Homo sapiens: one gene and its partners. The protein of the gene in region 3 purifies or fractionates together with the protein of the main gene of each other region. This does not show direct contact. Each region holds a gene or a part of one and is shown on either strand. Other genes may lie near its edges. The genes, in order: THUMPD3, HEATR5A and PPM1B.

What was found.
Region 1: the proteins of PPM1B (region 3) and THUMPD3 purify together in Homo sapiens (co-immunoprecipitation; 3 studies listed by BioGRID and IntAct, with this or other methods). This does not show direct contact.
Region 2: the proteins of PPM1B (region 3) and HEATR5A purify together in Homo sapiens (co-immunoprecipitation; 3 studies listed by BioGRID and IntAct, with this or other methods). This does not show direct contact.

What each region holds. Positions count from the first base shown.
Region 1 is NC_000003.12:9,373,054-9,376,710, reverse strand, and holds part of THUMPD3 (tRNA (guanine(6)-N(2))-methyltransferase THUMP3), read right to left. Parts: intron 2,196-3,657; coding exon 2,065-2,195; intron 1-2,064. UniProt on the Homo sapiens protein: Catalytic subunit of the THUMPD3-TRM112 methyltransferase complex, that specifically mediates the S-adenosyl-L-methionine-dependent N(2)-methylation of guanosine nucleotide at position 6 (m2G6) in tRNAs.
Region 2 is NC_000014.9:31,322,981-31,326,637, forward strand, and holds part of HEATR5A (HEAT repeat-containing protein 5A), read right to left. Parts: intron 3,363-3,657; coding exon 3,183-3,362; intron 825-3,182; coding exon 585-824; intron 1-584.
Region 3 is NC_000002.12:44,199,820-44,203,476, reverse strand, and holds part of PPM1B (protein phosphatase 1B), read right to left. Parts: intron 2,292-3,657; 5' UTR 2,278-2,291; coding exon 1,432-2,277; intron 1-1,431.

The DNA of each region.
Region 1 (3,657 bases), on a different chromosome or scaffold from region 3:
TCTAATCTTTTCATGTGCTGGTGTGGGACTTATCGCATGTATGATAACTATTTATCTCCCTCACAAGACAGATTCTTGGGGGTTAATAGTGGGTTCTTATTGTAACATTGGTCCTGCTCTATCTCCTTGCTCCTACTCCTCAACACATGGCAATAGAATCCTTGGCAACCCTCTTGAGGGGGTAAGCACCCTGTACTCCAAGCCATTCCTGATGGTCAGGGGTGAATATCTGACCAAAACAATGTCCATCAGATCCTCTCTTCCAGGAATTTGGAACAAAGAGCTAAAAGCCCTAGGCAGTGTGGGTTGGTCGTTTGGAATTGGAAATACATAAATTTAGATGAGAAAGCATGTAGATGAGAAGAGACAAGAGTCCACAGGCTCTAAGGGGAGATAAAAATGGCTGCCTACATTTCTGGTGGTTTTCCAAGATGTGGTTCCTACCCTTCTTGAGAACCAACATTCAGTTTTTCTGTAGAATCCCCAAGATTTCTCTTTATCTTTCCAATAAACCCCTCTCTGGCACAATTATCACTTTTTTATCCTAAACTTGATTACTTAGGTTTTAAATATTTGCACCCAAAATAACACCCTCTCTGTATCCCTGGTTTCTACCATATGCCTGGCAGTAGATAATGCATATTTGTTAAATTAATGAAGACTAGAAGATTTTCCTTTATCAAATGGGCCCAATTTTCTATTATCGTCATTGAATTAATATGTTAGGAAGATAAAAGATTGGAAGAGAAGGAATACAGTCGTGTACTGCATGACAATCTTCCAATCAATGGTGGACCAAATATATGAATGCAGTAATTATAATACCATATTTTGCCCTATCCTTTCTATGTTTAGATACACAAATACCACTGCGTTACAACTGACTACAATATTCAGTACAATAACATGCTGTACAGGTTTGTAGCCTAGGAGCAATAGGAGATACCACATAGCCCAGGTGTGTAGTAGGCTACACCATCTAGATTTGTGTAGGTACACTCCATGAGGTTCGCACAATGATGAAATTGCGTGATGACACATTTTTCAGAATGTATCCCTGTCATTAAGTGATGCATGACTGGACTTAACTACCAGGACATACCAGGCACTGTATATAATAGGTATTTTGCATATGCTTCAGCATTTAATCCTCACTAATAATCCTTTAAGTCTCACATCAAATCCATTTTGCCATCTGGAAAACAGAAGCTTTAGAGAAAATAAACATTTTCAAGTGGTGGAAAGAAGCACCCAATAAAAGAGAGAAGGGCAAAGGAGAAGGAAAGATAGGTCGTGTACTCTGAAAAGCAAAAAATTCTAGGATGATTCCTGAGTTGCTGTGAGTATAAAGCTTAAAAATATAAGTAAAAGCTCTTTCTGTTCATTTACACGTTATACACATAAAAATCTCTGCTTTCATCTTTTTCACTGCACAGAAATGAAACAGCAAAATTTACTCTTATCTCCCAACACACATATCCTTGCTAAACAGAAATGTGGTAACCTCATTCAAGAGGCAGGTGAAAACTATTACTCTCATTTTAAAATCAAGAAAACCGGGCGCGGTGGCTTACACCTGTAATCCCAGCACTTTGGGAGGCCGAGGCGGGTGGATCACCTGAGGTCAGGTATTTGAGACCAGCCTCGCCAACATAGTGAAATGTCGTCTCTATTAAAAAAATACAAAAATTATCTGGGCGTGGTGGCAGGCACCTGTAATCCCAGCTATTCGGCTGAGACAGGAGAATCGCTTGAACCCGGGAGGCAGAGGTTACAGTGAGCTGAGATCTCGCCACTGCAGTCCAGTCTGGGCGACAGAGTGAGACTTTGTCTCAAAAAAAGAAATAAAGAAAACTGAGCCACCTATTAAGCAGTATTTTCAGATCACAAGGAGTCAATATTGGATAGAAGGGAAAGAAATAGATCATTAGCTTTCCATTCTATTCTTTATCCACTCTATTCCAACACAGTACCTCAAACACACATACACACAAATCAGTATTTTGAAGGGAACATTCAAACCAAGGTGCCACTTTAAGCTGGATGGCAAACTCATTTTCTTACCTGAGCATCCCATAGGCAAGAGTTGATCTAAGAGTTGTAGGTCCAAAATGTGTTATATTTCTTCGGTGGAGACTCTCTTCAGTCAATGCAATGCCCACAATGACTTCATTATCATGGATGTTCAAAAGAACCTATAGCAAAGTGGAACAAGACAAAATAGTTTTAGGATTGTTCAAACTGCGCTTAGTAATAAGACTTTTCTGACCTGGGCCGGTTCACCCCTCCTTAGGCAACCTGTTGGTCCCCTACTCCTGGGAGGTCACCATATTGATGCCAAACTTAGTGCAGACACCTGATTGGCATAGCGCACCACAGCCCAGAACTGTCTAAAAAGTTAAGACATTTAAAAAATACATATTAAAAAACCTCTAAGCCTTCAAAATATGTTTGTGTTATAAAAATTGGGGTGAAATCTGGTTGTAGCCAATAAACATAGTGAATTAAAAGAAAATAATAGATATTAAAATGAACGAAAAAAACTATATACTATATGATTTCATTTATATGAAGTTCAAAAATTGGCAAAACGAATTTTTGGTGGTAGCAGTCAGATTAGTGATTGCCTTGAGTGGGTACTGACTGGGAAAGGGCAAGGGGAGCCCGAGGTACTGGAAATAGTTTGTATCTCTATCTGGATGCTGTTTACACATCGTGTATATAAGTAAAAACTTACTGAAAACTTAAGATTTGTGTACTTAAGGGGTGCAAAGTGTATCTCAACAAAAAAGTTTTAAAAATTGGTAAAGTCTCAAATAAAAAGTCTTATTACACTGAGTGCAGTGGCACAGGCCCACAGTCCCAGCTACTCGGGAGGCTGAGGTGGGAGGACAGCCTGAGCCTGGGAGGTCAAGGCTTTAGTGAGCCATGATTGCACCACTGCACTCCAGTCTGGGTGATACAGCGAGACCCTGTCTCAAAAGTGAACTAAACTAAACCAAAATGTTCCCCAATCTTTCACTGAAAGACTTCCTGAGCTTAACCACAGCAGAAGCACAGCTGATACTCATACAGCACTTCCTAATGCAAAGCACTATTCTACACATTTTACATACATGGCCTCATCTCATATTCACATCCCCTAAGCTAGGTATTATTCCCTTTATAAATGAGGATACTGAGGCACAAAGACAGCTCCTCAGGAATTCCCTTTTTGAGACAGGGTCTCACTCTGTCGCCCAGGATTGAGTGCAGTGGCATGATCACAGATCACTGTGGCCTGGACTTCCTGGGCTCAAGCAATCTCTTACTTCAGCCTCCCAAGTACCTGGGACTATAGGTGTCTGTCATCATACTCAGCTAATTTTTTTTTTATTTTTTGTAGAGACAGGGTCTCCCTATGTCGCCTAGGCTGGTCTAGAACTCCTGGCCTGAAACAATCCTCCAATCTTGACCTCCCAAAGTGCTGGGATTACAGGTGTGTGTCACCACACCCAGCCTCCTCTGGGATTTAAACCAATGCAGCACGGCTCCAGAAACTCCTCTGAATCACCTTGCTAACTTTTAGACATCACTGTTCTGGTTAACCTATTCATTTTATTTTTTAAAATATTTATTTTATTTTTAGTGGAGACAGGGTCTCACTATTTTGCCCAG
Region 2 (3,657 bases), on a different chromosome or scaffold from region 3:
ACTTAACACTGAGAAAGGCTCAAATGTTTTTTAGTTAATATCTATGATACTAAAATAATCTGTAAGCAAAAACTGGCCCAAGTTACAAACCAGGAAATAATTTTTGAGAACTAGTAAATGTTCATACTATTTCCCAAGAACCAATTATTTTCTATAAACTTAATGCATTGCACCTGCTCATTAAAGTGAATGCCAATATAAGAAGCTTAACCATTAAAAATGTATTTAAACATGAAGTGATGTGAACACGGCTCACTGCAAGCTCAAACTCCTGGGCTCAAGTGATATTCCTGCCTCAGCCTCCCCAGTAGCTGGAACTATAGGTGCATGCCACCATGCCTTGCTAATTAAAAAAATTTTTTTAATAGAGACAATGTTTCATTGTTGCCCAGGCTGGTTTCAAACTCCTGGGCTCAAGTGATCCTCCTGCCTCAGCCTCCCAAAGTGTTAGGATTACAGGTATGAGCCACTGTGTCTGGCTAGTTTCATTTTAAAAAAATATTTTAATATTTTAAATATTAAAACCATAAGCAGACAGCATTTTTACACATATCATTTGGTGTTTTCATCACTATGTCACTTACTTCTTGAATCTCTTTTTTTCATTTCTTGTGCTAAAGCAATGTCAAAATGTGCACTGTTAGCATTCTCACATTGGTTAATTATCCTACAGACACATTCAGCAGCAAAGACTCTAGTAGCCCATCGGGGATTGGTAAAAGGATGGGATTTTTCATCACGTCTGGTGGTCAGGACTGAGGCATCATCCCCTTTATCTCCTTCTTCTTCTTGCATTGTATCCACACAAGTTACAGCTGTAAAATCTTTTATTAAAGGAGAACATATGTAATTATAATCAACTGAAAGATATATATATATATATCAAAAGGAACAAAAAAATGACTTCAAATTCAGACTAGAATTGCTCAACTATCAATTGCTACTGATCAATCATCTTTTTAATAACATCAAATAATTAGGTCTAATAACTACATACAACTAAACAGCTGTCTAAAGGAGATGCTGTTAAGAACTGTTCCAGGTCAAAATGACCAAGCTGTTAAATTATACTCAAAGTAAAAAACAAACACAATAAAAAATATTTAAAAAAACAAACAAACACAATAGTAGATACTGAAATAATTATCAATCCCCTGCAAGTAGATGGATGTACTTAAGGAGACTCAAAATTCTCGGGTGTGGGTGGGATACATTGGGAAGGCTGTTTTAACACTGGAGCCTTGCATGGATTTCAGGAGGTTCCTGAATCTACTGAAATTGTCTGAAAATATTTTTCTTAGGATAGACTCATTGCTACCATTACAGTATCAAAGGTGTAATGATAGCTGGTCACTGAGTAGTGAATTATCTCCTCTACTTATTAACTGTTACACTTACAAACTGTTTAACAACTGAAAATGGAACTAATGCTATGAAACAAACCAAACTGCTTTTCTTATATTATCCCGTATGTCAATATTTTTTTGCACGTTAGAATACCAAACATGTCACAAATAAAGTTATGGTCAAGTTAACAGAGCCTGGAAGGTGTTTTCCTGAGAAGGTATGGAGCCAAACCTCAGAAGATGAAGAATTAATGGCAAGATAAAATTGAGCAAGCTCAGGGAGTATGAATGCAAAATTTAAAAAAGATAATTGAGACACCAGGAAAATGTAATCAGTCTATGCACACATGTATTTTCTTTTTTTTTTTTTTTTTGAGACAAGATCTTGCTCTGTTACACAATCATGGCTCACTGCAGCCTCGAACACCTGGGCTCAGGCGACATTTTCTTTTAAAGAAGTCCTTGCAATTTCTTGAGTAGTGGGGAACAGAAGAGAAAATTAGAAAAATAAAATATGTAAAGCGTAATAGTTGAAACAGCCAGTGTAAACCATTGGAAGAGGGACCAATAAGAATCAAGATAGTCAGAGCAGAGAATACAAAACATTCCAGGAATTTGGTGTTAACTTTTCTCCTATCACACAATTCAGACATGAGAGCTACATTAAATTCTAAGGCTTGGGCAACTGAGTTGGGAGCACTGAAGTACAGTGGAAGGCTTGTGGATTTTAAAAGTTGTGTAGGCGTAGGACTGAATCTGTCTATGTCTTCAGGCAGGTTACCTCTCCAAGCCTATTTTCTCTTCTATAAAACAGAATAAAATTGTCTATGCATAGAATGGGTTAAAGGCTTAAATCAGATAAATTATATACAGTTCTTGGAAAATAACTGGTTTTTCTCTTCTCTCTTCCTCTCATTTATTTTCTCTCTTACTCCAAGGATACAAATTTTAAAGATTTGAATATACTTTCTCATGAACAATTATCTTGTATTACTAAAGACATTAGGGTAATAACAGTTTTCTAATACTACTTGAAATTAACATTATTGTATGTAGTGAAACTGGCTTGCTCAAAATGTCATAACTTTGTATAACTTTCTCTTATGGTGACTAAGTAATTTCATACGGTGCGAGGGGTGGGGTGGGTATGTATGAACATATGTATGTATGTATGTATGTATGTATGTATGTATGTATGTAGAGACAGGGTTTCACTCTGTTGCCCAGGCTGGAGTGCAGTGGTGTGATCTTGGCTCACTGCAACCTCTGCCTCTCGGGCTCAAGCAATCCTCCCATCTTAGCTTCCCGAGCAGCTGGGACTACAGGTGTGAGCCACCAGGCCCAGCTAATTAAAAAAAAAATTTTTTTTTGTAGAGATGGTGTTTTGCCACGTTGCCCAGGCTGGTCTCAAACTCCTGGACTTGAGCAATCTGCCTGCCTCAGCCTCCCAAAGTGCTGGGATTATAGGGGTAAGCCACCACACCTGGTCTCAAATATTTGTTGTATGTATGAAAAGAAATGATGGGAACAATATACATCAAGTCACACCTTTTAGGGCATAAACAATAACTTTACTTTTTAATTTGTTTTATATAGGAAAGTCATCTAAGACAGCCAAAGGGAAAAAGAGCAGGCTTAAGTATTGGATTTATATTGTTCAAATTACAGAGAATTCTAAAACACTAGAAATACAATCTTCATTTGAAGAAAAGCAACAATCAGACAGTCAGAATCCAGCTAGTTAGACAAGACTGATGAATTCTCAGTGGTAAACAATTTTATGTAAAGTTTCAAATTTCAATTTTATTATTTTAACTGATAATGTCCAATACTTACCAGCTGATGCAGCAAGTACATCTTTACAAAGCTTTAACCACAGGGAGAGTTTTTCCACTGCCATAGATGTAAGCATATAATTTAAAGTCTCTTTGATATCATGGCATAATCTCTCATCTGTCTCCTTGTCTAGTAAGATCAACAATGCCCCCTCAAGGCCAACTTCTCTGATGTTAGCATCTGACAAGAAGAAAATCAATTATCTAAGTAATACAGAAAACAAAACTACCATATCAGAAGCTCACACATTCAGTAGTTATTCAAATAGTAGATAAAAATACATCTTAAAGAACTAGCCCAAATACTGTGCTTTAATCTACTGAGATCCATTTTAGTTCACACTTGAATTTTGGGATTTATGATCCTATATAGCAGTATTTTATGTAATGTCACTGAAAAAAAGTATTCATATGTTATTATTAATATGTTTTCTTAATCAGGTAAAAAGTTTTACCCAATTAGTGTCCAATACTTA
Region 3 (3,657 bases):
TTTATAATTGGGGAAAATGCTGTTTTCATTAGCTAGTCAGGCAACAAACATATGCCTATGCTTGTCTCAAAAATCTACAGGTCAGAATTGCTTCATTTAGAGTTCAAAGACAAATACATAATTTTAGACCCACTTACTATTTGATCACTGACAACCATCAATACTTCTTTACTTAACTCATCCAGAAGTAAAAAGATACAGTGTGTTAAAAATAAAAATCAGAGGAGCTAGAGGTACCATCATTAAAATCCTTTCAGAAAAAGGCTGTCCACTGACAAGAACGGCCTTTAAATCTTCTGTTTTTAAAACTGCCTCTTTCCATTCTATTAAAAAGAAATCGGTATTTAACCAAAATCTGGGCATTTCCAGAGACCCAGAGATCCTTTCTGAAAAACTTTCTGGTTATGCCCATACCTTCCACAGTACATTTTGGAGTAGGGAGATACAGTGGTTCTAATCTAGACAGAATAAATAAGTCAAACCCTTTATTTATTTCATGTAACTAAAGGTCAGTTTTACCTTGGTATCTTTTCAGTCAAATACTTACACACTCCAGACACTGGCCAGATAACTCAAATTTTAATTGAATTATATATAGATGCTGTCAAAAACCCACTTGAAACAACTGAGTATTTTAAAGATATTCAAAGGATTGCCAATTATCTATTACTCTGGACTTTTTTTCTATTACTGTATCAAGCAATGATTCATACAAAATTACAAATCTAAATAAACTTTAGTGTTCCACAGGAATTTTTCACAAGATTATGTTTTATAGAAGCCTTTGGTTTTTAATCAGAAATAATAAAAACATCTATATGAAAAGAATTTTATCTTCTACAAAAGATACTATCCAAGTCATGTATTACTTAGAGAGCCACATGTAAATCCTTTTTAGATTGTATTGCCAGATAAGAGCTGCTTTTAGAAGACAATGAGAAATATACAACCCATATTTTTATTTCAGTTTTTGTCTTCACTGCTAGGAGGCTCAGGACTAAATTTTATACAGGCTAGGCATCTAGTACATCTTCCAATATTTCACATGGCTCTTGATCTTTTAGTAATATCTAGTACAGAATTCTACTATATACATATTTTATCAAGCTGCTTCATAATCAGGCATAAGATGGTTACTGCCAATGTCAAGAAAAAGTCACTCTGTGTAAATGCTTTTGCTACAGCAACAAGCTATGAAGTACTTAAATGACAACAAATGCCTCAAATTTATCAAGCTTAATTTTCAAATTAGAAGGCTGGGACAAACAAGGATGGCAAAGAAAACAATGGTTTCATTTCTGGTAAAGTACTTCAAAATATACAGCTTCTGTGAAAATATTAAAAGTTTTAAAATTTTAAGTTAGCTTAACTTTACCTACCGTAACTTTTCAAAATTAACATGTTATTTTAATGACAAAAAAGTTTACATACCTTGTGTAAACAAGTGTCCACTACCCAATTGCACACATTTTCCAGGTCATCAGATACCTCAAGCCTAGATTTAACATATTCACAGAGCTCCTCATTACTCATAACATCCCAGATCCCATCACAAGCCAAGATGATAAATTCATCCTCTTCTGCTCTTAAAATTTCATAAACCTCAGGCTCTGGAGAAACAAGTTGTTCTGTTGGGCCCTTGCCATCAACACACTTGTAATCATAGTCCCCCAGAGCACGAGATACTGCTAATGAACCATTAACACGTTGTATCATCACGCTGCCTCCTGCATTTTGGATTCGCTCCTTTTCCCTTGGATTGCAAGGTTTGTGATCCTGGGTAGAAAAGCAGACTTGTCCATTCCTATACAGAACAGCACGTGAATCACCACAGTTGATAAAGTAGATATGCTTAGGTGAAATCATAACTCCCACTGCAGTTGAACCACTCCTGTCCATCCCGTTTCTGAGGTCTGAAAAGTTACGCATGTATTCATCAATTTTCAAAAATCCAGTTCTGATACCATTCTTAACATTTTCCACTGAAAGCTCAAGAGCAGATCCTGATTTTCCAGCTGCCCTAAAGTCTTCGTTAGTAGTGATGTGTTCTAATAAATGTGTTGAGCAGTAATTTGCCACTCGGGATCCAGCATGACCATCATAAACTGCAAAAAATGACCAGTCTTCCAAGCCGTGAGGAATACCTACAACAGCTGTGTGTGCATCTTCCATTTCCACTCTCCATCCTTGCATGCTGCTCAGGCCATAACGTAAACCATTCCCAGCACCATGAGCATTATGTTTTTCAGTTTTGGGTTTATCCAAAAATGCACCCATGTTTAGCAATAAATCTGAAATAAAAAATGCAGGTGTTAAATGTTTAAATTTGACAGAAAATGTATGTACAATATTCCCTCTATAGTCTAGTAACTCCTACCTCAAGTATTTTTTTTAGTATTATCCTAATTTACGGGAGCAACAACAAAAGCCCAAGAAATTTCCTCCCCTACATCCTACAGAACAGTGGTTTCTCAGCCCTAGCGCGTAAGAATAATCAGACCAATTAAATCAGAATCCCTAGGGATGGGACACAGATATCATCTTTTAAAAGCCTCTCTGGTGACTTGTATGTGCAGCCACGTTGAGACCACTGTTCTAGGAGAAAGGAAAAAACAAGAAATAAAACTTCATTAATAATTTCATTCTGATTTAATTTACAAGGTGAGTCTAGGGTTCGACATGTAAGTTTACAGAAGACTGGACAATGAGAATATTCAAAACAGTGAGTCATCTTGTTCAATAAATCAAGGTAGGAAGGTATACTAATATACTTTAGAAGACTTTCAAAAGCAAGTATTGAAATCAAGATTTCTCCTCCCAGTGAACCTAAAGACAACCCCAAAATTCAATTAAAACATAAAAATCTCCATTCTACACACATTTGGTTTTATCACTTTTACTATATATCTATAAAACTGAAAACCTTATCATTACTTTGATTCTGTTAAAAACATACCTTTAACATGGTGCTAAAAAATGGACTTCACTTTGCTGAACTTAAAATCCATGAAGTAGCTACCCAGTGTTGACTGACAAAGACTTAAAATCCTTAGAATTGGAAAGTACTACTATGCATCACCCTCTCCCCGCCTACCCAACTTTACTATTTTATAGAATAAAGCTTTCCCAATTTCAAATGACTTAGATTAGACTTAGAGTAATGGTTCCCAAAAGTATGCAAAAGAATTCTCTGGTATGTTTTCTACATACAATGCTAACCCTACACTCTAACTAGGTGACCTTGGGCAAATTTCTTAGTCACCTGTACCTATACCTCATAGGGCTGCTGTGAAGAATGAGTCAATGTAAAGTGCTTAAAACAGCACTTAAAACACAATAAACACCATAAAATGTTTGCTGTTATATCTGCTCAAAATGCAGACTCCATAGCCCTATTCCCACACCTAAGGATTTTTTTCAATAGATCTTAGATGGAATCATCAAAAAAGCATGCTGGTGATTTAAAGTTTTGAGAGACACTGGTCTAGATCAATTTACCTCCATTTGGGTCTACGTATCTTTGTGAGATTTTTTCCAGGTATGATCATTATTGAACTTTACAATAAAATTACATATCGCCATTTAAAAAAATCTGATGAACCACTCGATATATATATGTAAATATTTATAAGTTACATACCAGTTTTATAATTTTCC